Linked DNA regions of Homo sapiens. The protein of the gene in region 3 interacts with the protein of the main gene of each other region in a biochemical or structural test. Each region holds a gene or a part of one and is shown on either strand. Other genes may lie near its edges.

Evidence for each region.
Region 1: the proteins of RDX (region 3) and ITGB2 form a complex in vitro, tested with the Homo sapiens proteins (one study listed by IntAct).
Region 2: the proteins of RDX (region 3) and MCF2 form a complex in vitro, tested with the Homo sapiens proteins (one study listed by IntAct).
Region 4: the proteins of RDX (region 3) and ABCC2 form a complex in vitro, tested with the Homo sapiens proteins (one study listed by BioGRID).

What each region holds. Positions count from the first base shown.
Region 1 is NC_000021.9:44,889,729-44,897,045, forward strand, and holds part of ITGB2 (integrin beta-2 isoform 1 precursor), read right to left. Parts: intron 5,333-7,317; coding exon 5,243-5,332; intron 3,817-5,242; coding exon 3,676-3,816; intron 2,269-3,675; coding exon 2,081-2,268; intron 495-2,080; coding exon 250-494; intron 1-249.
Region 2 is NC_000023.11:139,705,066-139,713,121, reverse strand, and holds the start of MCF2 (proto-oncogene DBL), read left to right. Parts: upstream 1-4,954; 5' UTR 4,955-5,016; intron 5,017-8,056. UniProt on the Homo sapiens protein: Guanine nucleotide exchange factor (GEF) that modulates the Rho family of GTPases. Promotes the conversion of some member of the Rho family GTPase from the GDP-bound to the GTP-bound form. Isoform 1 exhibits no activity toward RHOA, RAC1 or CDC42.
Region 3 is NC_000011.10:110,230,546-110,237,862, reverse strand, and holds part of RDX (radixin), read left to right. Parts: exon of another isoform or gene 1-158; coding exon of another isoform or gene 159-210; coding exon 211-371; intron 372-1,671; coding exon 1,672-1,764; intron 1,765-4,383; coding exon 4,384-4,626; intron 4,627-5,829; coding exon 5,830-5,994; 3' UTR 5,995-7,317. UniProt on the Homo sapiens protein: Probably plays a crucial role in the binding of the barbed end of actin filaments to the plasma membrane.
Region 4 is NC_000010.11:99,777,558-99,785,816, reverse strand, and holds the start of ABCC2 (ATP-binding cassette sub-family C member 2), read right to left. Parts: upstream 3,178-8,259; 5' UTR 2,973-3,177; coding exon 2,940-2,972; intron 1,210-2,939; coding exon 1,036-1,209; intron 1-1,035. UniProt on the Homo sapiens protein: ATP-dependent transporter of the ATP-binding cassette (ABC) family that binds and hydrolyzes ATP to enable active transport of various substrates including many drugs, toxicants and endogenous compound across cell membranes.

The DNA.
Region 1 (7,317 bases), on a different chromosome or scaffold from region 3:
CTATGACCGTTCCTCCTGTGGGCCCTCCCCACAAGGACGCCTTGTCCTCATGGACACAGAAACTGAGGCAGGGCGGGGTGCAGGGCCATCCAAGTTCCTGCTGACGCCCGGTGGCTGGGCGAGACTTGCACTGTCTGTCCTCAGGATCCCCCCTTTCTGTTCCACTCGTTGAATGGTCCAGAACGCACCCCCCAACACCAAGTCTGTGCCGCAGGACGGCCGTTGTCCAGCAGGGACCCACGGGCTCACCCGGGCCGCCGCAGACCTGGCCGTTGTAGCGCTCACAGTTGATGGTGTCACACTCGCAGTACTGCCCGTATATCAGCTTGCCGGGGACGTCGCTGGTGTGGCACAGGCACTGCCCGCAGACACAGTCCCCCAGCCCTGAGCAGATGATGGAGTTGTTGTCCTTCCGGCAGCTTCCTTCCAGCTCCTGGCTGCTCCGGCCCTGTGTCTGGCACTCACAGTTTTTCCCAATGTAGCCAGTGTCACACCTGGGGACAGGAGGGGCCCCAAGGTCAGGCTCCCCCCAGTGATGTGGGACAAGGGACAGCCGCCCTGTCCTCCAGGCCCCTTGCCCTTGGTGGAGAACACCCCTATGGCACATTTTGCTTTCCTCGAGGCCTACTGAGCACTTGCCACGGACTAAATGTGCTCAAAACGTGCAGGGGCCCCGCGTTCCCTCCCCAGGATGTCCCGAGGGGAAAGCAGACACCTGGCCTTGGCCTGCGCATGCAGTGGCTCGGCAGGCTCACTGTGGAGCTGTGTTGCAGCCATGCACATGGCCTGTGCTGCGATACCGGTGCTCTGTGAGTGGCTGGTGTCTGCTCCTGCGTGCCCCACATGGTGGCCAGTGGGGACTCGGCACTGCCTCCTGCCACAGCCCCGCCCTCCCTCCTGCGTTCGTGCACTGACAGGCCAGGTTGTGGGAGAATGCAGGGACAAGGGGTTTTTACAGATGTGGAAGCTGGCATCAAGCCGCTGGCAGGCAGGAGCCACACACACCCTGAGGCATCCTCAGAGACGGCACTGCCACGGGCTCTCCTGCTCCCCAGAGGAGGAAGCTGCAGGACCGAGTGTCTGAGTACCTGTGGCAGGGCACCCCCCGACACCTGCCAAGTGTTCCGACTGAGTCACCCCTACAGTCCCGTGAAGAGGCCGCCCCAGGGCTGCACACCCAGGACAGTGGGCGGGGTGGCCACTGAGGCACGAGGACAGCAACAGAGACCACCAAGACCACAGAGACCATCATTGTCCTGAGATATGGGAGGAGGCTGGGGGCAGCAGGGACCTGAAGGTGAGGAAGGGCACTGCCACCAGGACGTGGATTGGCACTGCGGTCAGGACAGGGGAGGAGGTGACCAGAGCAAAGGGGGCAGAGTCCTGGGAGGTCAGCCTAGCAGCTCTGGCCAGGCAAGCAAGGAAAGGGGGACAGCCATCCAGCCCCCGGGCAGGCCGCCTGGCTGAGTGCCATGTGAACCTCCCCACTGGGTCCACCTGTCCCCCACTTCTCCCTGAGGTGGGGTGCCCACGCCTGGCAGGGGGTGTGCACGCCCAAGAGGTGGCCTATGGGGCCCAGGCTCCCAGAAGCCATCACCTGTCCCAGGAGGCTCTCTAGCCACCCATGCCCCAGGGCTGCCAGCCTGATGGCCTTGGGTCCCCAAGGTCAGAGAGAAGCCAGCTCCTAGGGTCAAGGAAGGTCGGGCAGAGAAAGTGACCCACTCAAGGCCATGGGCACGCCCAGCGGGGACTCCTTGTGCCCCTGAGATGGGCCTCCATCCTCTGGTGAGGGGGTCCTCCTGCCCACAAGTCCCCTGCCTTGGGTCCTCCATGGCCAGAGAGTGTAGAGTACAGGCTGGCATTGCTGGTGCCCTGGCTCAGGAGCACGGGTGAGGGCTTGCCGAGGGGTTCTGGGTTCCAATCCCAAATCTCCCCACCTCCTGCAGAAGGGGGCCCCCAGGATGCCTGCTCCGTGGGGTGGGGGAAGGGATGGAGCCACCTGCACCCACCTCACCTGCCGACACCTGCCCTGTGGGGTGGGGCTCGGGGATGGTTCAACAGGGACCTGCGCCCGCCTCACCTGCAGATGCCGCACTCCAAGAAGCCCTTGCCATGGCAGAGGCTGCGGTCTCTGCTCTGGTCCCGGCACCGGCACTCACACTGGGGAAGAACCTGCACGGTCACTATGTCCGTGAAGCCCAGCGCCCGGATGACAAACGACTGCTCCTGGATGCACTCTGTGGCCGTGACCTTCACCTGGAAGGTGATCTGCAGGGCAGTGCTGGGCTCAGGTGGGGACCCTCGGTGGCCAGGGTGGCAGCCCAGCTCCCAACCCTCACCTCCTGGCCTCTGCAGGGGTCCTGGGGGGTTCAGCGTGGGGAGGAAGGGGTGACCAGGAGCAGGAAGAGCTGATGCTCAGATCCGAGAGCCAAAGTCAGCCGGCAAGGAGGTGCTCTGCCCGCACTCCCGCACTGGCCGGCACCAGGATCTCCCCGGCCACACATCAGCAGAGACATGTGACACGCAGACAGCAAATCAGGAGAAGCTGAGCACACTCCCACTCAGACCACCCAACATGAGGGAAACGTTCTGGTGAGAATCCATGGGACAGCTGGGCGCCGCGGCTCACGCCTGTAATCCCAGCACTGTGGGAGGCCGAGGCGGGTAGATCATCTGAGGGCAAGAGTTTGAGACCAGCCTGGCCAACATGGCGAAACTCTGTCTCTACTAAAAATACAAAAATTAGCCGAGCGTGGTGGCACACGCCTGTAGTCCCAGCTACTCAGGAGGCTGAGTCAGGAGAATCACTTGGATTGTAGTGAGCCAAGATCGCACCAGTGCACTCCAGCCTGGGCGACAGAGCGAAACTCCATCTCAAAAAAAAAAAAAAAAAAAAAAATCCACAGGCAACATTTACCAAGAAACATGTTTGAAGGAATTCCAAAGTCATATTAAGAAAATGCAATGAAAGCAAGTGTCTTGCTGAATATTATTTCACAGCTAGCAAAAAAAAAAACAAAAAACAAAAAACAAAAAGAAACAACAAATGATTGGATAATAAACTTAAACCTGAAAGATTAGAGAAGGAACTCAGTGTCCATTCCTAACCACCTGTGTGGCCCATGCCTTAATGTTTCTGTCAAAAAAACAGAATGAAACACGCAGAAAATCATGACAACTAACCCTACCCAGGTTTGCCGTTTGCGCCTGTTCTGTGTGTCCGGCGTCTGCCCCCAGGGGGCGCAGCCATCACTCCATCCCTCAGTCTGCAGTGGCCTGACCCAGGGATTTGGGCTCCAGGTTGATGAGTAGGACTCTTGGGGGCCAAGGCGTGTGTGAAGAACCCTCCCAGCACCCTCTCACTGAGAAGCACCCTCTCGGCACCCTCTCACTGACGTTCCTGACATCAGCTTCACAAGGAAAGCGTCTGGCCTCGGCAGAGAGGATGTGAAGGAAAGAAACAGGGTCCTTCCAGTGGATGCTGCCTGCTCCCAGACAGCCTCTGATGCCTGTGTGCCCCTCCCTGCCCCCGTCAGAGTGCTGGGATGGGGACCCTGGCTCCTTCTGGCTGTCCCCAGGACCCCTCAGTGTGCTGGGATGGGGACCCTGGCTCCTTCTGGCTGTCCCCAGAGCCCCTCAGCAAGCTGGGATGGGGACCCTTGTGGCCAGGCTCACCGGGACATTGATCTGCACGCCATCACAGTCACCTCTGGGCTGGTTCCTGTGCGTCACTCCATTGCTGCAGAAGGAGTCGTAGGTGACTTTCAGGGTGTCGGGGAGGGCGTTGTGATCCAGGAAGACCCTGGAGGAGAGTTTCTGCGGGCAGAGAGCGGTTACTCTTGGGGGCGAGTGTTTCTGTTGTCCTGGCCCTGCCTGGCCCAGCGGTTTAGACCCGTCTCCACTTCTCCTCTCAGTGCAAGTCCCCAGTGTCAGCTAATGACACAGAGGAGAGCACAGCAGGATGTGCTGAGGATGGCAGGGCTGCCAGGGCCACAGTCCTGCCCTCGAGACAGCCTGACCACAGGGACTAGCATGGAGCCAGGGTGTGAGCCTCAGGGGTGGGAGCTTCTGCTGCTCCTCAGCCTTGAGTCCCCAGGACCTAGCACAGGGCAGGAGCTGCATAAATTGTTCAAGCGATAAGAGAGATGGGGAGAAACAGAGAGAGGCAGAGACAGACAGAGATGGGCAGAGCCAGAGCCAGAGACAGAGAGATGGAGAGAAACAGAGAGAGGCAGAGACAGAGACAGACAGAGATGGGGCAGAGACAGAGAGAGACAGACAGAGAGAGACAGAGAAAGAGAGACAAAGACTGAGAGACAGACGGAAATTGAGAGGAGGCAGAGGGACAGGTTCATAGGGGCATCGGGTGAATGGCCAGGGCAGTGGCGTCACCTGCATCCTCTGTGTAAGGACAGAAACACCTCGGGCAGTGGCTGGCACCCAGGAGGGTCTGCTCTGGGGGTTTGGGGCTCACGGGAGGCTACGAGAAGCAAATGGCACCTCCTCCACGGGCCTTCAGTTTAATTCAATGACCCAACGTTTGTCGGAGGCGCTAACGTGCTGAGCTCCCTCAAGCCAGCAGGACCTTTGGCCTAGAAGGATCCAGGCCAGAATTCTGAGAACATCTCTCACCTGGGGGTAGATTTCCAGAGCAGTCGGGACCTCTGGTGCCTGGGGCCCTGAATGGCACCTAGTGCGCACCTATGCCTACCTATGCCCACCAGGGCCATGGGCTCCCCAGGGGAGCAGCCCAGGGTGCAGCTCGATGGGCCGTGCACCAGGGAGAAATTCAGGGGTTAAGGGCTTCTCTGGAGCTTGCCCAGGACAGGTGAACAGAGCAAGAGGAATTCCACCCCCCAGGGTGTCTTCCCAGGGCCCAAGTCCACTGTGGGGGTTTCCTGTGGCCTCCTCCTGCCCCAGCTGCACTGTTTGCCACCAGAGCTGTCCACCTCCCTTCTCCATAGAGACCCGCAGAGAAGAGTCTGGAATGAAGAGTCCGGAGCTCAGGTTTCAGGGAGCATCGCCCACAACATCAACGAGAGAGGACCCAGAGCTCCCCGTGGAAGTGCCGGGCCAGGGTGTCCTGGAGGCCTGAGGGCAGGTCGGGAGGCTGCAGCTGGCCCACGGGGCAGGGGCTTTCCTCCCAGACCACCCTCCTGCTGACCTGCAGCAGGAGCTGACCTGCAGTGGGGAGATTGCTGGCCACCCCATGGGTCCCAGCTGAGTGGTGCGGGAGACTCACATTGTAAGCATTCTTAATGAGATGGACCACATTGCTGGAGTCCTCAGACAGCTCCCCCACGGCTGACTTGGGGATGATCTCGGTGAGTTTCTGTTGGGCAAGAAGACCAGACATGGCACGGCTAGGACCTGTGCCACGGCATCTCCACGCACTGGGCTCACCCCAGGGGCTTCTGCACCTGCAAAATGGCTGGGACGGTCCTCAACGCAGTTTTGCACTTGGTCCCCAGAGTGTGTGGTCAGTGATGTGTGGTAAGAGGTTCTTGGGGGTAAAAAGCCCTGAGCTGCCCAGGGGCCACGCCTGGAATACCAGTACTCGGGAGGCCGATGTGGGAAGATTGCCTGAGCCCAGGAGTTCAGGACCAGCCTGGGCAACATAAGAAGACCCCATCTCTACAAAAAGTACAAATATTAGAGTGGTGTGGCGTCACATGCCTGTAGTACCAGATACTCGGGAGGCTGAGGCAGGAGGATCACTTAAACCCAGGAGGTGGAGGTTGCAGTGAGCTGAGATCGCACCACTGCACTCCAGCCTGGGCGACAGAGCAAGACCTTGTCTCAAAAAAACAAAACAAAACAAAAAAAACCCAGGCCAGGCATGATGGCTCACGCCTGTGATCCCAGCACTTTGGGAGGCCAAAGTGGGTGGATCACTGAGGTCAGGAGTTTGAGACCAGCCTGGCCAACATGGTGAAACCCCGTCTCTACTAAAAATACAAAAATTAGCTGGGCGTGGTGGTGGGCACCTGTAAGCCCAGCTACTCAGGAGACTGAGGCAGGAGAACCCAGGAGGCGGAGGTCGCAATGAGCTGAGATCACACCATGGCACTCCAGCCTGGGCAACAAGAGCAAAACTCTGTCTCAATAAAATAAAATGAAATGAAATGAAATGAAATGAAATGAAATAAAAAAATAAATAAAATAAAATAAAATAAATAAAAAATAAAAAAAAAATTACTGTTGCATCATGAGGATAAGAAAAGAAAGCAAAGCCCTGAGCTGCAGCATTGTCCAGGCCTGCCCGTGTGAGTCCTCCTGCCTGCGGTGTGAGTGATCCCGCCTGCGGTGTGAGTGCTCCCGCCTGCGGTGTGAGTGATCCCGCCTGCAGTGTGAGTGATCCTGCCTGCGGTGTGACTGCTCCCGCCTGTGGTGTGAGTACTCCTGCCTGTGGTGTGAGTGATCCTGCCTGGTGGATTTCAAGCTCGCAATATCACTGGGTTGGGAGGACGTGCATGGTGGCCAGTGTTGGCCAGAATTTCCACCACACAGGTAGGGAATTCCTACCACCACACAGATGGTAGGCGGAAGTAGCCCCACGAGGGTGGATCACAGTAAAATCACCAGGAAGCCATCGGCTCTTGGCACTCTACTGAGTTTCCATGGGTGTTAAACAGCCCGGTGACATCGGTTCTGGCCGGCCAGATGCACAGGGGCGCAGCCAGCCTCCCCCATGCTCACACATGCTCAGCTTCTTTCATGGAAGATTGCGGCATCATTTCACCTTCCAGGAACACGGAGCAGATGGTCGGGTCACCTCCCCGCCCAAACCCTCCCATGACTGCCCTGCATGGGCCCAGTCCCTTCCATGGAGCTCCTGGGGCCGGTCACAGCCTGGCCACCACCCTCCTCTGCGCCCTCCGCCCACCGCCCACTTCCATCCGTCCCAGTCTGGGGCCATCCCTGTCTTGGGAGAGCTGGGCCCTCCCACATCCTGTCCTGCTGAGCCTGCTGTGCGCTTGGTGCAGAAACACACTCGGAGGGGGCGTGGCACGTGTGTCCACACTCGCTGCCTGTTGCCTTGACCACCCCCGAAGGTGACCAGGAAAGGCTGAGGAAGGCTTGTGTGCCCCAAGGCTCAGCAGTAGGCATGGGGTGCACTCTACCTGCCTCCAGTGCCTGGCCCTGGTGCCACACCATCGCCTGGAGTCTGGCTGCCATGACAAATGGCAAAGGATTGGGACCTGCTACTGCTGGTGAGGAGGGGACCGTCATGGCCACCTACAGATGGGACACAGGGCTGTGACATCCTGACCAGCAGGTGGTCTCTGTGGATGTCCGGCCCCAGCCCTGCCCTGC
Region 2 (8,056 bases), on a different chromosome or scaffold from region 3:
TTGAACAGTTTAGTACTGTACTCCCATTTCGTATGTACCAGCTTTAATCTGAAGTCCTGTTGTAACTTTGTTAGCGAACCCTTTTTGGTTGATACTGAAATCTGCACTGTGGATCCATAACAGCTGTTCTTTTGTGTGAAACACGGTACAAGTGAAGTGCTGTGCCTAACACCAGGGCTCTGATGCCTCTGTTCACTTACAATTTCATTTTCAAACATGGGAAGCTTCCATGATAGAGTAACTGAGTATTGCTTGGCTGCAAATTAAAGACAGCGATGTGGGAACACAAGTTCCCTGTGCGTTTTCTGAGTGAGCACTTTCTCGGATGCCTTTCATTATCCCTCTCCTCTCAACTCTTCCACTCCCTAGCTTCTCTTGTACAGTGGTCAGTGGGGTGATTTTCTTGTACCTCCACTCTCTGTGCCCTGGGTTGGGAATATCACACCAGTATGGTGCCAATGAGTGTTCACAGAGAGTTGGAGAAAAGAGGTGGCAGAGATTAAAATGCATAAATCATAGAATTCCCAAAAGAATATTTTTAAGACAAGTTAACAAGTAACTCTGTCCTTTTGGTACAAGAAACAAACCAGAAAGCAAACAAAACCCATAAAAACTATTTGTTCAAATTGTGAAAACTATCTTGCATTATTATATTGTAAGAATAAGTTTAGAAAACTGTTGCACTTCAGGCAAAAGTCCATTTTAATTGACCTGAGGTTTTGCTAAATTCAATAAGAATTTTATTTTTTTCTGATTATACTGACGATACTTGCTCAAAATCAAGCAATACCTAATAATATAAACATAAAAGTCACTTAGTATCACAACCCCCCTGAGGTAACCATATTTTTTTGAATATGTATATGTATATATACACATATACACAACATATATACATATATAATTTTGTATCTATTGAACTATGTTATACACACTATAATTTTAAACCATAAAAAGTCGTATGATTGTTCTATATAAATTAATTCATATATATATGACTTTTAAATAGCTGTGTGGCATTTCATTTATTTCATGCACATGGTTTAACTATTTCCTAGTTTATTATATAAATTTCTCCTCCTCCTCTTGCCTGCTATTATGAATAACATGGCAATGTATTCTGTACAAAAATATTTCCATTCCTGCCCGAGTAGCTTCTTGGTGTAAAGTCAAAAATGTGGAATTCCTGGGGCAAAAGATATGTACATGACAAACTGTCTTTGAGAAAAGCTATATGAATCTGTGCCCGCAACAACAGTCAGCCAGTTTACCCTCCCCATTCTCAGCATTAAGTGCTCTCCATCTTTAATCATTCCTCATAGATCTGGGGTCAGCAACCCAGTCAGCATCTTTAGGGCTGTAGGGAAAAAAAGGTAATGAAGAATGTCTGACCAAGACTATATGTGGCCCACAAAGGGGGACATTTCTATTATCTTAGCTGTTTACAGAAAAAAAAATTTGCCAACTCCTGGATTAAAGGAAAAATAGTGTTTACTCTTGGTAATATTAGCTTTTCTTTGCTTATTTGTGAGTTCCAATAGATTTTCCATGTACATGTGGGTGTTTATATTTCCTCTTTTGTCAATTACACTTCCTTCACCCATTGTCCTATTAAGTTGCTCACCTTTTTTACTCATTATAATTCTGTATATTAGAATATGTGCATGTTGTCATGTATTTCACAAATATTTTTCTCTGTGTCAATTAATCATTAAGAATGTATCTTTTATATTGCACAGAAAGTTTTAGTGTTTATGCAATCAAAGCAAATATTCCGAGAATGATAGCAGGTGCTACTTTAGATATGGTAGTAAAAGAAGTTCTCTCTGACAAGGTGACATTTGAGCAGAGAACTGAATTAAGTGAGAGAGGGAGCCATTCATATATATGGATGAAGGGGAATCCAGGCCATGTGAACAGCAAATGCCCAGACCCCAAGATAGGAGCTTTCATGGCATATTGGAGGTACTGCCAGGAGGTCACTGTGACCAAAATGGAGGGAGATTGGTAGGAGTTGAAATTAGGTATGGAAGGATGAGAGCATGTAGAGCTGTGTAGACTATGATAAGGACATTAGATTTGATTCTGAATTCCAGTAGAAGTCTGGAATATTATGAACAGAGGAGTGACATAATCTCACTTAAGTTTTAAAAGGATCACTTCTATTTTTGGTATCTTTTAAAAATATGTGTTATATTTTCTTGTTGTAAAGTAAATGCATGTCCATTTTCAATTATATAGATAACATACAAAAAAGAACCAAGTAAGGATGATAGTATTTTAATAAGCTTTTCTGGATATATATATTTACCTTTATCTACATATATTAAGGTTGGGACATACCTTAAAGATCTTCTGGCCCAGAAATAAATCCAGGCATTTATGGTCAACTGTTCTTCAAAAAAGTTGCCAAAAACACACAATGGAGAAAAGACAGCCTCATCAATAAATGGTGTTGGGAAAACTGGATATACACATGCAAAACAATGAAATTAGACACATCTCACACCATGTGCAAAAATCAACTCAAAATGGATTAAAGACTTAAAGGTAAGACCTCAAACTGAATGTTCTCACCACAAAGATATGACAAATATATGAGGTCATGGATATGCTAATTACCCTGATTTCATCATTATACAGTGTATACATGTATTAAAACATCACACTGCACTCCATAAATTTTATATATATATATATATATATATATACATATGTATGTATTTGCTATGTGTCAATTCAAAATAAGTAACATAGAAGAAAAGTTTCTTGACATTAGTCTAGGCAGAGATTTTTTGGATATGACCCCAAAAGCACAGACAACAAAAGGAAATATAGACAAATGGGATAGCATTAAACTAAAAAGTTTTCTGTACATCAAAGGAAACAACTGAGTCAAAAGACCATCTATGGAATGGGAAAAATACTTACAGACCATACATCTGATAAGTGGTTAATACCCAAGATATATAAAGAACTCAACTCAATAGCAAAAAGTAGTAAATAACCCAATTAAAAATGGTCAAAGAACCTGAGTAGACATTTCTTAAAAAGAAGACATACAAATGGCCAACCAGTATATGACAAAATGTTCAACATCACTTATCATCACAAAAATGCAAATTAAAACCACATTTAGATAACATTTTGCACCTGTTAGGGTAGCAATTATCAAAAACATAAGATAACAAGTGCTTGTGAGGATGTGGAGAAAAGGGAGCCCTTGTTGGTGGGAATGTAAATTAGCACAGCCACTATGGAAAACAGTATGAATGTTCTGGCCCAGAAAAAATCCAGGCATTTATGGTCATATTATCAATTACCATATGATCCAGCAATGCCACTACTGGGTATATATCCAAAGAAAATGAAATCAGTCTGTCAAAGAGATATCTACACTCCCATGTTCATTGCAGCACTCTTCACAATAGCCAAGATATGGAAGCAACCTCAAGAAAATATTTTTTATATATACTGTATATATATATATATATATATATATATATGAATGATAGCATTCGTGTCTATATAGTGTATATATATACGAATAGCATTCGTATATATAGTATATGCTATATATGCTATGTATATAGTATATGCTATATATGCTATGTATATAGTATATGCTATATATACTATATACATAGTATATATAGCATATACTATATACATAGTATATGCTATATATACTATGTATATAGTATATGCTATATATGCTATGTATATAGTATATGCTATATATGCTATGTATATAGTATATGCTATATATGCTATGTATATAGTATATGCTATATATGCTATGTATATAGTATATGCTATATATACTATACTATATATACACAAATGCTATTCAGCCTTTAAAAAAGAATGAAATTCTGTCATTTGTGACAGTACGGATGAACCTAGTGGACATTATGCTAAGTGAAATAATCCAGACACAGAAAGAAAAATACTGTATGATCTCACTCCTATGGGGAATCTAAAAAAGTCAAACTCATAGAAGTAGAAAGTAGAATGGTGGTTTCCAGAGGATGGGGCAGGGTTTTGGGAGATGTTGGTCAAAGGATGCATCATTACACGTAGACAGGAGGACAAAGATCAAGAGATCTATTTTTTAATTTTTAAATTTTTTTTCATATTTTTATTTGTATATATTTTTTGAGATGGAGTCTTACTTTATTGCCCAGGCTGGAGTGCAGTGGTGTGATCTCAGCTCACTGCAACCTCTGCCTCTTGGCTTCAAGCGATTCTCCTGCCTCAGCCTCCTGAGTAGGTGGGATTACAGGTGTCCGCCATCACACCCAGCTAATTTTTGTATTTTTAGTAGATATGAGGTTTCACCATGTTGGCCAGGCTTGTCTCGAACTCGTGACCTCAAGTGATCCACCCACCTCGGCCCCCCAAAGTGCTGGGATTACAGGTGTGAGCCGCTGCGCCCTGCCAAGAAACCTATTGTACATCATGATAACTATAGTTAATAACAATATATTGTGTACTTGAAAACTGCTAAGAGAGTAGATTTTACATGTTCCCACCACAAAAAGGATACATATGTGAGGTAAAGAAAGTATTAATTAGCTTGATTTAGCCATTCCAGGATGTATACATACATCAGAAATCATATTGTACACCATACAATTTTTATTTGTCGTGTACAAAAAAAGATATGCCCAGCTTCTTCTGCATTTTGTGCAGAAGTATTTTGTTTTCAAACTGTCGGGCTAACTCTTGAGTGGGCGTTCTGTTTCTCCAGATTTGTCCTTGTAAATAAAAAAAAAAATTAGGTCTCCTTCCTCTACTGTGATACAGTGTATGATTTATAATTTTGTTTCTGGGTTCTACTTCAAGTCAAGGCTTCTCTACACTTTCAGTTGCTGACATCAGATTGGCTTTGAAACTTTTTTTCATGTTAAGAGCAAGAAGGCTTTTGTTCTTGGAGCAGGCAGAGAGTATTGTACATTCTTTTGGCCGAGGAAACAGAATGAGCTGCGACAGTCTTAAGGACAAACATTTGTGGTAAGTATTTCTTTACCTTAGAGTAATATAAGAAATGGATTGGGGCAATGAGTGGGTCAGTCTTGGAATATTTTTATAGATAGCATCCCCCATAGCCAGTCATTTTCATTCTTGTAGTAGTTTCCCCTTTTCCCCAGAATCCCCCATTTCTAGGACCAATGATTTGCAGGACACAGTGCAGTTCTTGTAAAGGTGTATCTGTCCATACAGACCGCAATAGCCTGCTTTGGGTTTCTCTGACAGTTCTTTGTCTACTGTTCAGTTTTTTCTAAAATAATTAGGATTCCCAAGTAAAGGCAGGTGGGAATTTCTCAACTCTGGATTAGAACTTCACCACTGTAAACCTGGAACTATTAGTATAACAAATCTGGTGTGCACCTGGGCTTCATGGGATGGCTGTACCTTGGTGTGGTTCCTATGCAATGTATGGGCCTCAGTCTCTGAGCCGTCTAGGGATTAGGACTTGAGAAATTGCCTTGTGAACTTGCATATGGTTGGCTTATAAATTTGGACAGCAGATTATTTATTTTCAGTGGGTAAAAGACCATTCCATTATTTGTGTCCAGTTCTTTTTAAGCACGCAAATTTTCCAGACCAAGAAGAACTACCTTGGTCCCCAGAAGGTAGCCGGGGGGATGTAGACTTGGAGAGCAAAGAAAAATGGGAGGTCTTGAGGGCAATCTTCCAAAAGAATATGGTGATGTTTCTCACATTTTTTAAAGCAGGGTCTCTAGTGAGGCAAAACCACATTTTATTCTTGCCTCTATAGTATTTATTTGTGGAGGTAGAAAGTTTCTGGGGAAGGAGTGGGACTGTTTATATGAAGAACCTAGAGGTCTTCTCAGAATGAAAGGATTGGAAACTCCAACCCTTTTTTTCTCTGATATGCAAGGTTCTTGAAAGTTGCTTGAGGGGCCCAAAAAGATCCTAAGGAAAACTCACCAAACTTGGTGAGAAAGAGGTAGAAAGGGATGGGAGCAGCTCCCTCCCAGAGCCCTCCATCCTTCTTTTTTCATCTGAGCTGGTTACTCTGCCGGCTAGCTGCACATCTCTTTCTGAAATTCCCTTTGTCTGTGCTCCTGTATCGGATCATTATTTCCTAGATTCATTGTCTTGCTCTTCATTGATGTACTTCATCATTTTTTTGGGGAATACATTCTCTACTAACTTCTTTATATGGGTTATAAACTTTTATTAATAATAATAATAATAATAATTATGTCTGAAAATATCTTAGACAACCTTTATTTTTGTTTGAGAGTCTGACGCAGTATAAAGTTCCAAGCTGAAAAACCTTTTCCCCCCTGATTTTGTGTTTATTTTTCCATTAGTTTGTAGAATCCAGTGTTGCTATTGAGAAGTTCAATGTCATTTTGTTTCATTTTTTTTCAACTTTAATTTTAGATAAGGGGGTACATGTGCAGATTTGTCATATGGGAATATTACATGATGCTGAGGCTTAAGGTACAGATCCTGTCATCCTGGTAGTGAGCATAGTACCCAATAGTTGTTTTTTTTTTTATCCTCCCCACCTCCCTGCACCCTCTAGTAGTCCACAATATCTGTTGTTCCCATATTAATGTCCATGTGTGCTCAATGCTTAGCTCCCTTCATAAATGAGAACATGTGGTATTTGGTTTTCTGTTCCTGCACTAACTTGCTTAGAATTATGGCCTCCAGCTCCGTGCATGTTGCTGCAAAGAATGATTTCTTTCTTTTTTATGGCTGCCTAGTATTCCATAATGTATATGTAGCACATTTTCTTTATCCCATTTACCACTGATGGGAACCTGGGTTGACTCCATGTCTTTGCTATTGTGAACAGTGCAGTGATGAACATACAAGTGCATGTGTCTTTTTGGTAGAATAATTTCTTTTGGGTACATACCCAGTAATGGGATTGCTGTGTCCAGTGGTAGAATTGTTTTAAGTTCTTTCAGAAATCTCCAGACTGCTTTCCACAGCGGCTGGACTAATTTACATTTCCACCAACAGTGTATAAGTGTTTGCTTTTCTCTGCTGCCTTGCCAGCCAGCATCTGTTGTTTTTTGACTTTTTAGTAATAGCCATTCTGACTGGTGTGAGATGGTATCTCATTGTGGTTTTGATTTGCATTTCTCTGATGATAGTGATGCTGAGTATTGTTTCATATATTTGTTGGCCATTTGTATGTCTTCTTTCGAAAAGTGCCTGTTCATGTCATTTGCCCACTTTTTAATGGTGTTATTTGGTTTTTACTTGTTAATTTTTTCAAGTTCCCTATAGATTCTGAGTATTAGACCTTTGTCAGATACATAGTTTGCAAATATCTTCTCCCATTCTGTAGGTTGTCTGTTTGCTCTGCTGATAGTTTCTTTTGCTGTACAGAAGCTCTTTAGTTTAATGAGGTCCCACTGGTCTATTTCTGGTTTTATTGCAATTGCTTTTAGGGACTTAGCCAAAAATTCTTTACCAAGGCCAATGTCGAAAAGAGTATTTCCTAGGTTTTCTTCCAGGATTTCTATAGTTTGAGATCTTACATTAAAATCTTTAATCCATTTTTAGTTAATTTTTGCATATGGAGAAAGGTATGGGCCCAGCTTCAATCTTCTGCATATGGCTAGCCAGTTATCTCAGCACCATTTACTGAATATGGAATTGTTTTCCCACTGCTTGTTTTGGTTGGCCTTGTCAAAGATCAGATGGTTGTAGCTGTGCAGCTTTATTTCTGAGTTCTCTATTCTGTTCCATTGGTCTATGTGTCTGTTTTTGTACCACTACCAAGCTGTCTTTATTTGTTTGTTTGTTTGTTTTTGAGACTGAGTCTCACTCTGTCGCCTAGGCTGGAGTGCAATGGTGTGATCTCAGCTCACTGCAACCTATGCCCCTGGATTCAAGCAATTCTCCTGCCTCAGCCTCCCCAGTAGCTGGAATTACAGGTGCCCGCCACCACGCCTGGCTGATTTGTGTATGTTTTAGTAGAGATGGGGTTTCACCATGTTGGCCAGGCTGGTTTCAAACTCCTGACCTCAAGTGATCTGGCCACCTCAGCCTCCCAAAG
Region 3 (7,317 bases):
GAGTTCGAGGCTGCAGTGAGCTTCTGCACTTCAGCCTGGGCAACAGAGCGAGACCCTGTCTCAAGAAAACAAAGAGGTATATATGTATTTACATGTGTGCTAACTTTTAGAAATTGAACAGATTTGATTTCTTGCTACTATTTTAGCTTCTTTTGATAATGAGAATGATTGGAATTAATCACTGTTGGGGGGAATACACATATTTCATAGAACTAGAAGAACAGACTCGAAAAGCTCTAGAACTGGATCAAGAACGAAAACGAGCAAAAGAAGAAGCAGAACGACTTGAAAAGGAGCGTCGAGCTGCTGAAGAGGCAAAGTCTGCCATAGCAAAACAAGCTGCCGACCAGATGAAGAATCAGGAGCAGCTAGTAAGGAACTGTCTTCTTAGAGAAAAAAGTTTAAATAAAAGCATAGAGTGAACCCTCTAAAAAAGAAAAAAAGAAAAGCAACCATTTTGTGCTTTCTGGAGAGCAAGCCAAAGATAACATGTAACTTAATAACAAAATGTAGACAAAAACCTAGAAAATTTATTTCTGCCTAAACAAAAACCTAAAAATACAAAAGAATAAGGCATTTTTCTATAGATTATTTGTAAATGGAGTCTACTGTCAGCAAAAGGTTCTGATTCACTTTGACATTGGACAGGTTCGGTAATAAGTCAGTTGGCGTCTTTTGCTTTAGATAAATTAATATGTTATAGTTATATAATATAGATATATGTTATAGTTATATAATATATTATAGATATATAATATGTTATAGTTCCTATGAGGCCATAATTGGTTGGGTTTTTTTATTTAGTGGACTTGCAAATAATTAGATGTAAGCGTGTCACTTAAAAGATCCTGGATTTAAATATTAGTTCACACATGTACTTGCTATGTATGTGTCTTTGGGTCTTTCTGAGCCTCAGTTCCCTCCCTTTGAAAAGAGGAATGATGGCCGGGCACAGTGGCTCACGCCTGTAATCCCAGCATTTTGGGAGGCCGAGGCAGGTGGATCACCTGAGGTCAGGAGTTCAAGACCACCCTGACCAACATGGCGAAACCCTGTCTCTACTAAAAATACAAAATTAGCCAGGCACAGTGGTGCACGCCTGTAATCCCAGCTACTCGGGAGGCTGAAGCAGGAGTATTGCTTGAACCTGGCAGGCGGAGGTTGCGGTGAGCTGAGATTGTGCCACTGGGCTCCAGCCTGGGTGACAGAACGAGACTCTGTCTGAAAAAAAAAAAAGGAGGAATGATACTACCTGTTAATGATACTACCTGTTAGGATTATTGGGGTATTAAATGAGATGATTTGACAAAGTGCCATTTAAAGTATATAGCATTAGATAAATATTTTATCTTTTGTGGACTTTAACAAATAGTTTATTGATGGAAATTTTTTAAAAAAGCTTTTAAGTTACACATTTTAAGTTCCTGCTACTGAAAGCAGGATTAACTAGTCTGTAGAATAATAGTAATTTTTTAATTTTGTCTCCTTAGCTCATTACCTAAAGGACTTATTGTAAATAAGCTATTTAAGATCTTAAGAAATACTGTATTTTTTTAAATGGAAGGCTAAGAAAAACATAAACAGCCTAAGCATGTGCATTAAAACTTTGTTGACTTATAAGATTATTCAAAATATGTTATTTTAATTTTGGAATTATATTGTTTACTTTAGGCAGCAGAACTTGCTGAATTCACTGCCAAGATTGCACTTCTAGAGGAAGCCAAGAAGAAAAAGGAAGAGGAAGCTACTGAGTGGCAACACAAAGTAATCATTTATTCATTTACTAGCTTTTATTGAATAGCTTTTATACCCAGGATTATGCTGACTTTGTAGTGATAAGTGTAAGATACTGTCATAATTTAGAGTGGGAAAGATACTCGTGTTATGTGTATTGTAAATATCTATCTACAGATATAAACCAAGTACTTTGGGAACACAGAAGAGGTGATTAATTTCTGGGGGACCAGAGAGTTGTCGGGAGACCCATATACATTTAAGCTGGGTCTTGAATAATGAATTAAATTTTGGGGGTACAAAAGATTGGGATGTAAAATTGGGAATAGTTAGAGACTGAAGAAGTAGTCATTCTAGACAGAGGGAACTGAATGAGTATAGGAAGTATGAATGTATATAATAGATTTGAGGATAACCAATAAGCAGCCGAGGCTTAGTGTTGTTCAGAAATGTTAGGAGATGTGGCCCTCAAGTTTGATAATAGGGAATTGTGAAAGGCTTTAAATAAATGCTCTGCTACAGCAAGGCAGTGGGAGTATCGATTGACTTGGGGCTTAGAAGATTTCAAAACAGGATTGTAACATGATCAGATATGATTTTATAAAAACCATGTAGTGATCAGTGTGAAGAAAGGATTGGGATAGTGGATACTTAAGAGATAAAGACCCAAACTGAGGATGTGAAAATGAGAATAAAGAGGAATGGGAAGATATAAGAGACATTTTGTGGTCACAAAAAGGCATGGGAACCAGTGATTGGATATGAAGTTGAATTATTTTTATTTTTTTAGAGACATGGTCTTACTCTGTGTCCCAGGCTGGAGTGCAGTGGCACAATCATAATTCATTGCAGCTTTGAACTCCTGGGCTCAAGGGATCCTCCCACCTCAGCCTCTGCAGTAGCCGAGACTACAGGCATGCACCATCATTTTTATTTTTGTTGAGAATGGAGGTCTTGCTGTGTAACCCAGGTTGGTCTTGAACTGCTGGCCTCAAGCAGCCCTCCCATCTCAGCCCCCAAAGTGCTGGGATTGTAGGTGTAAGCCACTGTGTGCAGCTGACACCGAGATTTCTAATATGAGTCCTAAGTAGATGAAACCACTGTTGTCTAAAGTAGCACACAATTGTAAAATCAGGCTTTGGTTGGAGAGTGGGGGAATATAAGATAATGAGAGTTTAATTCAAACAACATTAACTCTTAACTGAAAAGATAATTTTTTTACCCCCAAAGATGATATTTAGTTTTAGAAGATGATTTTTCTACAATAAAATGTACTTATACAGAAAACAGTTTTCTTGCACTCTTAAGTAAATCTTTGTAGCAGTTTAAATTTCATTGGGTAATTTTATATGTATTGAAAATTAGTTATATATAAATAAAACTACAAAAGGAATGCTACTGTTAATTTCCCAGTTACTCTACTTGTTTATTAGAATTTTTTAGATCCCTTTTAGGGATGATTTATGAAATTTAGAGACACATAAACTTTAAAAAATTAGCATATTACAGATATCAAGTCTGTGAATTATAGAAAATTAGAAAATGCACACAAAAGACAATTGTATTCCCATAAACTAGGGGAAATACTGCAAAACCTTAGTACATATTCTTCCAGGATACTTCCTGTTTATATATTCAACATGAAATCTTACTGTATGTACTATTTCATTTTAGTCAATTTTCATCTCAGAATATTAGACTATATTAAGAATTTCCCAAAAAGTCTCATAGCTAATTTGCCAGACAAGTGTTCAGAGGACTTTGCATTGTCTGTATTTGCTGTAAGTCTCTTTTAATGGAGGGCAGTTTCTCTTTTTATTATTTTGATTTATTGAAGGGACCTACAGAATGTCTCACCTCCTATATTTGTTTAGTTACTTCCTTGTGTCATTGACCTTATCCTTTAACTCCAGTATTTCCTTTGAACCAGAAGTTAGATCTAGAACCTGGGGAATTCAAATTAAATGTTTTGACTACAGTGCATCAAAGGTGAGACTTCCATATAATTGAACATCTAAACTGGAGTACTTTTGAGAAAAAGGGGGTATTGTTCATAATTACACCAGGACAACAGTGTAACAGGACTTTTCCAGGTAAACCAAGATAATATGATCACCCAAATAATTGGTGATGTTAGATATTTCAGGTTGTATCATATCAGAAGACACTTAATATCTAGTTAACTCACCATTAGTATTTTTTAGTGATCATTGGATTTGAGTAACGACAGTCTCATTCCTCCGTTATTCGGTTACATTTTCCCCTTGTGGCTCAAATAAAATCTATTGGGTGTGAGATTCTTAGGCATTATATGAATATCTATTTCTCATCAACTATTTGCACAACAGTTTTAGCAAACAATTGATAATCCTTGCCAGAATTAATAGTTCTTTTTTTGCATGTATGCTTGTTTTTCTTTTAATCTGTCACTTTGAAGCTCACAGAGTAATTCTAATAGGGTTTGCATAATAATGTTTTTGATTTTCTCTTTTACCTGTTGACATTCTTTTATGAAAATAGAGGTTTCATAAATAGGGCCTATTTTCATTACCTTGAAATACAGTTTCTATTAAAAAGGGAGTATAACTTGATTGTTTTGATTATTAATTTTTGAAGTAAGTTGCTCATAAACGTATTTTTAATGTTCAGGCTTTTGCAGCCCAGGAAGACTTGGAAAAGACCAAAGAAGAGTTAAAAACTGTGATGTCTGCCCCCCCTCCACCTCCACCACCACCAGTCATTCCTCCAACAGAAAACGAACATGATGAACACGATGAGAATAATGCTGAAGCTAGTGCTGAATTATCAAATGAAGGGGTAATGAACCATAGAAGCGAGGAAGAACGTGTAACCGAAACACAGAAAAATGAGCGTGTTAAGAAGCAACTTCAGGTATTTAAAATTTGCAGTTGTATGTGCATTTGAAATATAGTTTGCATTTTCCCCATCTTAGACAAACTTAGTTAAAAAGAATATAGAAGTTTTAATACTGGCTGCCCTTGTGATTGGTTTGTGGGTGTTTGGCCTATAGTCATGTTATTTCATTTCTTCCGTTGTGTGAACCCATTAGCAAATACCTGTTAGCTTTGTATAATCAGACCTTAACTAGTGAGTTATTTAATTACAGCTTGACCCATTTTAAAAGGTAGAAAGTATTCTAATGTCATGTTGAAAAACGTGAATTTAGTTTTTGATCAGTAATATGTACATTGAGGGCCAGGCGCAGTGGCTCACACCTGTAATCCCAGCACTCTGGGAGGCCGAGGCAGGTGGACTGCCTGAGGCCAGGAGTTCAAGACCAGCCTGGCCAACATGGTGAAACTCTGCCTCTACCAAAAATACAAAAATTAGCCGGGTATGGTGGTATGAGCCTGTAATCCCAGTTACTTGGGAGGCTGAGGTATTGCTTGAACCTGGGAGGTGGAGGTTGCAGTGAGCCGAGATCATGCCACTGCACTTCAGCCTGGACAATAGTAAGTGACTCTGTCTCAAAAAAATAAAATAAAATAAAATGTACATTGGAAAGAATGATAGTTAATATACTATGTTTAAGACATTACATAATCTTAATTATTTGTTGAGATTTTATATTGGCAAAAGGTCAGTATATTACATGGACATAACTAGGTCAAAGTAGAGGATTTTAATATTATGAGCTTTCTTTTTTCCCAATAAGTTATCTAATATTTTAATTGTTAAAATCTTTAAATATTAAAAGAAAATGAGGTGATAGTTACAATAAATGTATTAAGACTTTTGGAGAAGGCTTCCCTTGAGGTATAGATTTTAAATCTCATAGTAATATTAGTCTGTAATGGCTACATTGAACTTTTTAGCCATTTCAAGTATTAGATTAGAAAGTTAAGGAAATTTAGAATAATGTACAAAATACCATGGTTGATAAATGTGGAAAGGCCATGTGTATTCCTCCCTTACCACTGCCACCACTATTACTAAAACAAACTTATACCTAAAGAAAAAGGTTTCACAGTGGAAATGATTTGGTATATGTATTTTTGCATCTTAAAGCCATTTTCATAAATTTTTTTAAATCTAAGAAAAAAATAATAGTTGTACTTTTTATTTTTTAAATAGGCATTAAGTTCAGAATTAGCCCAAGCCAGAGATGAAACCAAGAAAACACAAAATGATGTTCTTCATGCTGAGAATGTTAAAGCAGGCCGTGATAAGTACAAGACTCTGCGACAGATTCGACAAGGCAATACAAAGCAGCGTATCGATGAGTTTGAAGCAATGTGAGAGCTGTTATTTTGCATATATGTTCTTCATAAGCTGAACCACCAACAGAGAAAAGCAGGCCTTTGCAGATATGATGGAATGCATCCCACCTTGCCAAAGCACTTACACCAGTTTGACTGTGCTAGCTAAAAGACAAATTTAAGGGGAGCTCTTCAACATTAAGGCAGTATGATATCATGCTTGGTTTTCTTTTTTCTTTTGGTCCAGGGAATGGAGAATGGTGTTCCATTGCCTCTTTTCACATTTTTTTTCTTTTTCTTTTTTTTTTCTGTTGAAGATTAACACTAATTATCACGTCTGACAAATGTGTATGTGTGGTTTCAGTTCTGTGTACATTTTAAAGGATAATGGTGAACATTTTAATGGGTTTCCCTTGCCCTTTCCATATTTAACCTATTTCCACATTCTCTCTCACTCACATTTTCTCAGTGTGCCCTTCTCTTATCTGCCATGTCCATAGCCATAATTCCACCATCATACAGATCAGGCAGTGTTTAAAATGATGGTAGGTAGCACAGTGGACAGTCTTTGATCATCATGTAGAATATGGCTATGAATCAGGAAAGAGATTAGAACATTTAATAATGTATGTACAGCTGGTGCTTAGTTTTTTTTTAATCTAAATTTAATTACCTTATTGGATATTTGATATTTGGTTATTTAATCACAGTCATCTTTAACAGCTTACACTGATTGGTGTTTTATCTCCTGTGATCCTTTGATGGCTTTTTTTGCCTACCATTTCACAGAGGTTTAGACAGCAGTAGTAGCTCCCTAGGAGAGTTTACTGATGAAACAGCCTCTGCAAGATTTTAAAAGTTTTGTTCTTTTATAGACTGATTTAGAAAAACAAATGATTAGTTAAAAAAAGAAAATATACATTTGTTGGTAACTAATGTTATTTTTTAAAACCTGGACCTTTTCTGGAAGGGCAGCATATAAAAACATCAGTCCCGAGGAGGGGACAACAATACTACCTCACTACTACATCTGTGATGACTGGTTGTTCAAACACAATGGAGTGTGTAAGGTATATGTTTTATAATTCATAACCATAGCCTCGATCATCAAGAAATACTTTCGAAATTTCATTTTCCTTCAGAATATCTTAAGAGTGCTAAATTTTTAACTGCCTTTTTGTCGAGTCAAACTGTGGGATTCTGATTTGTATTAAAATTGTAAGCTCCTCACTGGTATACTATCATCCTGGAGGGGTGTTGTATGGCTGAGCAAGAGAGAGAGAGAATGAGAGAGAGACTGTGTGTGTGTGTGTGTGTGTGTGTGTGTGTACTCTGTGTGTGTATGAGAGAGAGAAATGCTAAC
Region 4 (8,259 bases), on a different chromosome or scaffold from region 3:
GCTGTGCAGGTGGCTCAGGCTTGTAATCGCAGCACTTTGGGAGGCCAAGGCAGGAGGGATCACTTGAGGTCAGGAGTTCGAGACCAGTCTGGCCAACATGGCGAAATCCCGCCCTACTAAAAATACAAAAATTAGCTGGACATGGTGGCGTGCTCCTGTAATCCCAGCTACTCGGGAGGGGTTGAGGCATAAGAATTGCTTGAACCCAGGAGGTGGAGGTTGCAGTGAGCCGAGATAGTGCCACTGCACTCCAGCCTGGGCAACAGAGTGAGACTCCATTTAAAATGGTAGTAATAATGATAATAAGGAGAGATAGAAAAAAAAATAGTGAAAAGAAGCAGATGGAAGATTTTATGAGATAATTTTACAACCTCGAATGAGGGTCTTGGGTTCCCACAAGACCCTTCCCTGAGTGAGTTGGTGCAGCTGGCTGAGGGCTCCTCCCCTCCTGGCCCCTCCTGGGCCTCTCCCGCAGACCTGTCCTTTCCATTATTTCCCTACTCGTGCTTGTCACTGTGCACACTTACCCCTCCTCCTTCTACTGTGAGTGATCATCCTGACTCATCAAATATGCGGGGAAAATGGAAACCTTATTTCGGACCCAAGTTTTTGAAGATGAGTGATAGTTGGATTGCCTCAGTGGGGCAGGAGATCCATTATCTAGCTCATTTTCACGAGGTAGATGCCAACTGAATTACAGTCCACTGATTTATTAGAGCTGTTTAAAGACAGGTGATCCAGTGTTCATTTCTCAAATGCTATAAAGATAATTTGATTGATTATATGCCCTTTGTGTTTAGGGAACCCAATATCCACAAGAATTAAGAGTCACCATTCTTATGCAAAAATCAAAGCCACTTTGATTTAAGAAATGCAGCAAGGGACCCGTGAGGGAAACCTTGAGCCTGGCTCTACCTGAGACAATGGCACCTGGGACAGCTGCTTAAAGACAAGGAAGAGAACACTAACCACCAAGAAAATGTCTCTACTGTGCACCAAGGAATTAGAGTTCAGAAACAGTGGTGTTAACTTTACCTGCTTAGCAAGATAGAGTTTGGTGGTAGAGGATCTCTTGGTCCTGGATTTATACACGTGGAGAAGCTGCCAGGGGGCCAGGAGCCATAGGTAGCCCAAGGGAATCCACACCAGAACAGTTTGCTCAAAACAAAGTGGCAGGTCTGCCTCCGGACTGTCCAGGAATGAGGAATTCTGGAGACCAAAGGGGAAGGATTGTTGCATACATGCATTGTGAAGACAGAAAACCACCCTGCAGCACATCCCACTGCTTTCACACAATTTAAATTCAACTCCATATCCATATCCAGCCTTACCCTTTAACTATCCGTATTTTCCTATTTGTGCACATGGATACAAATTCACCATTTAATGACAAATGTAGTCACTTTCTGGCCAACCCACCCTCCAAAAACGTGTCTTCTTGTGATTCTAAGTGAATTTTGTACCAGCTATTCTGAGTAAACCTCACCACTGCATTTGCCAAATTATAGGATGAAGAAGGACTGTTCCCCAGTTTAAAGGACAGAATAGTTCCCTGGGATATAAAAAATTATTCAAGTTTCTAGCACTAACTGAACTCACTGGCAGATATTCAAACATGCAGGCGCCATGCAGGGAGAATGCTTAGTCATACTGTAACATTTGCTCTCTGATGGCCCAAAGCGCTTACATTAAAAACCTGGCCAGTTTCAGCACAGCAGTGACAACAGCATTGTTGGACAGAAGGCTTCCAACCAGCAAGTTTTGTGCAGTCTTTGCATTCTGCGATAAATGGAAGTGTCTTGTGAAGTGGAAGTTGGGGGGTGGGGGGTGGGCACCAATTCTTGTATCTGAGTCACATGAGTGTGGATTTTTCTTTTCCTATAAATAGTTAAAAATTGTTTTATATGATTATTTATACAGACTCTTTAAAGAATTGCTTGCGATGCCCTGACCAAGAAAGTTTGTCAGGTAGTTCTCAGAAAGAATTCTCAAGAGATGGCCTGTCTAGATACTATAGCCCATGAAGATCCACCTTGCCGTGGTATACACTCCTGGCCTCGAGGGTCTTGGGACCCAGGTCCTTTCTAAGACACGAGGTGCTGCCCAGGTGCTCTGCTATCTCATCCCTGCCCCTCTCACCTCTATATAAGGTTATCAAATGTTAGAATTCAGAAGAATCACTTAAGATACTTAAACTACATTTATTGCCCCAGGTGATTCTGATGCTGAGGCTAGGAGTTTGCAGATGATACTTTCTCACCAAACCCTTACTAAAATCACTAAATCTAAGGTCCTTTTTTGTTTTCTATTCCACTAGACCTTTGATACTGTTGATTGGCCCCTATCTTGAAATTTTTTGCTATCTATGACTCCGTAATGTTACACTGTTCTTGTTCACCCTCTAAGTGGTGTCTCTTCTTTTCCTTAAAAACAATATTACCCAACTCTAGTTGTTCAAAAATTATTTCAATGCTCATGATGCCCAAAGTTGCATCCCTAGACTCAACTTCTAGTCCATATCATTAGTTGCCAGTTCTAGAACTTATCATTATCATTTCAACATCAACATGTCTCAGCAAGACTCAGTCACGGATCTTCTCTTCCTTCTACTAGCAAAGTATGCAACAACAATTCTCCTTCCTCACACGGATTAAATTGGAAGGTTTTTACCTGTTTCTCTTTAGAGAAGGCAATTTTGCGACTAGCTAGTACAAGAGTCTGATATAAAAAAACATATGACAGAGAATAATTTGCATTACATTTCCCAGATCTTATATCCTCTGGAGATATTATGAATTATGCTTTCTAAAAAGCCTGAGCTTTAGACCAATTGCACATCTAACATTTCTGGTTCTTGTTGGTGACCACCCTAAGTTAACTAACTACCACTTGTTCTGAGTCTGAGAAGAGTCAATATGAAGATAAATGTAATTTCTCACCCAAAAAGTAGAGTTGCAGAACTTCTCCAGCATGATTCCTGGACTGCGTCTGGAACGAAGACTCTTCTATTAATATGATTGTGTTGTTTCTTCTTTACTTGTTTCATCAAAGAAAGTGGAACAGGAATTATCTACCATTCTGATGTTCTCCGTAAAGGATGACCTTTCATCCCAACCATTTAATCGTTAACCTTGCCTAGATGCATGTTACATTGAAACAGTGGATGGACATGTGACTAAAAAGCCCTAGGGACAGGGAGACTCACCAGTTCCCAAAGTACAAGAGGCCTCTGTAGGAGTGGCCATACATAAAAGGAACCACTGAAAGATGTCAACAGAGCTGGCCAACAAATCAAGAGTGCACAGTCTTTCATTTTCCTAAGGACATATGACCCACAAAGGGCAGCATCAGTAGAGGGGCAGGCACCCCTAAATGTGCAGTTTCGCTTCTGCTGCAAGATCTTAGAGTTTATAGAAATGTGAAATATCCTTCTTCCTTAGATTTTTAATTAAAAATATAGAATCTAAAACATGGTTTAAACATGATGTAAACTTTCTTTGAAGAAGTCAGGTTATAAAATAGCTTATCCAGTGTGAGCCTATATGTTATATACATAATACAGGCTTTCAAAAGTTCTATTTGCCTGAGAGGTAGTATGCCAAATGGGAATGAAGCCTTTGCCAGGCATTGTAAATATGATATCATGATAAAACATCAGGGCCAGAGGAGAGGGGTGATTCTGTAAACAGAGTGGTGGCATCAGTCGCTAGAAACTGTCATCGACCCAACCTTTTCTTTTTTTGTTATTGTTTTTTGTTTTTTGAGACAGGGTCTTGGTCTGTTGCCTGAGCTAGAGTGCAGTGTTGCCATCATGATTCATTGCAGCCTTGACCTCATGGGTTCAAGCGATCTTCCTGCCTCAGCTTCCTGAGTAGCTGGGACTACAGGCACATGCCAACAAGCCCAGCTAATTAAAAAAATGTTTTCTGTAGGGACGGGGTCTCACTATGTTGCCCAGGCTGGTCTCAAACTCCAGGCTTCAACAATCCTTCTGCCTTGGCCTCCCAAAGGGCTGGGATTGCAGGCATGAGCTACCGTGCCCCACCTGACCCAACCTTTTGTACTGTCACTTAAATTGCTTTAAGAACATGCTTTTTTCATGATATCATGAACCACCCATGCGGTATCCTAGCTAAAACATAACCACCCATGCAGTATCCTAGCTAAAAAAAATTGGCCTTAAATCTGGTCAAATTCTAGATCTAACTACCGGATTATAAGAAACACAGGAACATGCTAAAGGACTCCATTGGAATGCAATTGTCAAAATCCAGAATGTGGGAGATTCTATAGTGCAAATGATTCCATTTTTTAATAAATAAATTAAAAGAAGGAAAGGAGTCAAAGGAACTTACAAATTACAAGAGAATCAAGAGGCATATCAGCCAAATGTGAATTGTATGGACCTTGTTACTGATTTTAAAAGTCAAGTATACACATAAAAAAAATGAAAAGGCAGCATTCAGTGTGGGAGAAAATATTTGCAGACCATATAACTGATGAAGAGTTAATATCCACAATATACTATAAGGAACTCATACAACTCAATAGCAAACATACACTAACAAATTAAAAAGTGGGCAAAGGACTTGAACAGACACTTTTCCAAAGAAGACATATAAATGGCCAACAGGTATATGACAACTGAATCAACTTCACAAGTCATCTGGAAAACACAAATCAAAACCACAGTTAGATACCACCTCATACCTATTAGGATGGCTATTACAAAAAAAAAAAAAAAACAACAAGATAAGTGCTGGCAAGGGTGTGGAGAAAAGGGAACCCTAGTATACTGTTGATGGAAATGTAAATTGGTCTGACCATTATGAAAACATATGGCAGTTTCTCCATCATTTTCCATACCACTCACCAGAAGAGCCAGGAAAGGTCAGCTGTGGAACTAAGAGATCTCACTTGGGGCAGGGTGCACCTTTAGGCTGCATACTTCTCTTGGCACTGGTGGTAGGACTCGGAGTCCGGGGGAACTCTTGGTAAAACTTTGAGAAATATAAGGTCAAGGATTAACACCTAATTTTCTTTTTTTAATTTTTTTGTAGAGCCTCAAACTCCTGGGCTCAAGCGATCCATTCGCCTCGGCCTCCCAAACTGCTGGGATTACAGGCATGAGCCATCGTGTCTGGCCTAAACGTTCTAAGTAATCAAAAAAAGAGAGGGTGGAGAATCTAAATGTTCATCAAAACAAGTTGCTTAAAGTATAAAATATGTACTCATAGGGAATATTGAATGAGAAAAGCAAGTAAGGAGCCAGGAAGTCATGAATCTTTCCTAACAATAACTAAAAATCTGAACAAATAGAAAAATCAATAACTCTTCTTAGATCTGTAGAGAGATAAGGTTACAGGGCAAACTGAAGAGATAAACAAGAGAATATCAAAAATCACAATTTACTGGCGCAGAAATCTCAGCAGGGGCCGGGCGCGGTGGCTCACGCTTGTAATCCCAGCACTTTGGGAGGCCGAGGCGGGCGGATCACGAGGTCAGGAGATCGAGACCACAGTGAAACCCTGTCTCTACTAAAAATACAAAAAATTGGCCGGGCGTGGTGCCGGGCGCCTGTAGTCCCAGCTACTCGGAGATGCTGAGGCAGGAGAATGGCGTGAACCCGGGAAGCGGAGCTTGCAGTGACTTGAGATCACGCCACTGCACTCCAGCCTGGGCAACAGAGACACTGTCTCAAAAAAAAAAAAAAAAAAAAAAAGAAAAAAGAAAAGAAATCTCAGCAGGAACCAGGGCTAGGGCAGGAAAACCTGAACTGTAATTGAATTGCCGGAGGCCCAGTGTAGATAAGTTTGAGAGAGAAAAATTCCAGAGTGACTCAGCCATAAGGAGGGGATGATCTCCACACTTTCATGAGTTTACCCATAGGAATTCAAAGAGGTTCTCAAATATTGTTCTCTTTTTATTAGAGAAAAATCTCCTCCTGCTTCCATGTCCCTGGCAGAGGGGATAGGAAAAGTAACCATTTGAAATATACCTGGACACTCTATTCTTCTCTTCTAAACAAAGTCTGCCCTTGGGAAAAACTGTTTAAATAGAGCCTAATGCTCTTGATTTATAGGAGCCTAAATGATGCCGGAGAAGGGAAATAAGAACTCCAGTCTCTTCTAGCCTTCCACATGAAAACTGAAAATACCCAGCTGCAGCCCACTCTAGCCATCACGTCCCACCTAACAGGGATCGGGGCAGATAGGAACTGAGAAGCACTTGTGAAATTCAGTCTAGAGACACAGGTTTACTAAAAGACTGAGACCTCTTCACAGAACTATAGAACTCTTCCTCTCCCCCTCCCCCACTGTATACCACACTACTAAAGGTCTAGTTACAGCACTTCCTTTTACTCCGTATATCCTGTCCAGCTATGAAGAAAACATTGCCAGGCATACTAAAAGGCAAAAAAAAAAAAAGAAAAAAAAAAGGCTTTAAAGAGACAGAGAGCAAGCCTCAGAACCAAACTCAGATATGACTGGGATGTTGGAATTATCAGACCAGAAATTTAAAACAACTATGATCACAATGCCAAGGGCTCTAATGGATAAAGTAGACAGCATACAAGAACAAATGGGTCGATGTAAGCAGAGAGTTTAAATTCTAAGAAAGAACTAAAAAGAAATAAATACTAGAGATCAAAAACACTGTAATAGAAATAAAGAATGCCTTTGATGGGCTTTTTGGTAGACTGAACAAGGCTGAAAACAGAATATTTGAACTTGAAAATAACTGCCAAAACTGCAAAAATAAGTAAGACTATATAAACAGAATCTCCAAGAACTATGGGACAACTACAAAGGGTATAACATATGTGTAATGGAAATAGCAGGAAGAGAATAACCAGAGAAAGGAACAGAATAAATATTTGAAGCAATAATGAAAGAGAATTTCCCTCATACTAATTTCAGACACCAAATCACAGATCACAGAAGTTGAGAGAACACCAAGTAGAACAAATGCCAAACAAACAAACAAAAGCCCTACAACCAGGCATGCATATATAAGTTGCAGGAAATCAAAGATAAAAAATTCTGAATGAAGCCCGGGGAAAAAGACCTTACTTGTAGAGGAGAAAAGATGAAAATTATGTCCAACTTTTCCTCAGCAAGCATGCAAGCAAGAAGAGAATGGAATGAAATATTTACAGTGGTGAGAGAAAAAAGCCACCAACAGCCAGCATTCTGTACCCACAAAATTATTCTTTAAAAGTAAAGAGAAGCCAGGCACAGTGGTGCGTGCCTATAGTCCCAGCTATTCAGGAGGCTGAGGTGGAGGGATTGCTTGATCCAAGAGTTTGAGTCCAGCCTGGGCAGCATAGTGAGACACTCTCTCTCTCTCTCTCTCTCTCTCTCTCTGTCTCTCTCTCTCTCTATATATATATATAAAATAATAATAAATACATAAATACATTCTCACACAAACAAAGACTGAGGGAATTTGTTGCCAGTAGACCTGCCTTGCAAGAAATGTTAAAAGAATTCCTATAGAGGAGTGGTCCCCAACCTTTTTGGCACCAGAGACCAATTTTGTGGGGAATGGTTTCAGGATGAAACTGTTCCACCTCAGATCATCAGGCATTAGATCTCATAAGGGTGTGCAACCTAGATCCCTCACATGCACACTTCACAATAGGGCTCACACTCCTATGAGAATCACATGCCTCTGCTGATCTGACAGGAGGTGGAGCTAAGAAGCCTGCTGCTCACCACCTGCTGTGCAGCCCTAACAGGCCTTGGACCAGCACCAGTTTGTGGCCCAGGTGCTGGGGACCCCTGCTTAAGAGAGAAGGAAAATGATATAGGTCAGAAATTTGGATTTACATAAAGAAAGGAAGAGCACTGGAGAAGAAATAAGGTGAAATAAATTATTTAATTCTAACTGACCTAAAAAATAGCAGTTCACTCAAAATAATAGCAACAATGTATTCAATCATGCATATTTCTGTGTATATTTTTAAATGCTTATGTATAACAAAAATGAATGACAGCAAAGACATAAGGGATGGGAGGGAGAATTAGGATTATTTTGTTATTATAAGGTACTCGCACTACCTGTAAAGTGCATAGTGTTCTTTGAAAGTGGACTTGGATTCATTGTAAATGTGTATTTAAAACTCTATGGCTGGGATCCTGGGCACTTTGGGAGGCTGAGGTGGGCAAATCACAAGGTCAGGAGTTAGAGACGATCCTGGCTAACATGGTGAAACCCCGTCTCTACTAAAAATACAAAAATTACCTGGGCGTGGCG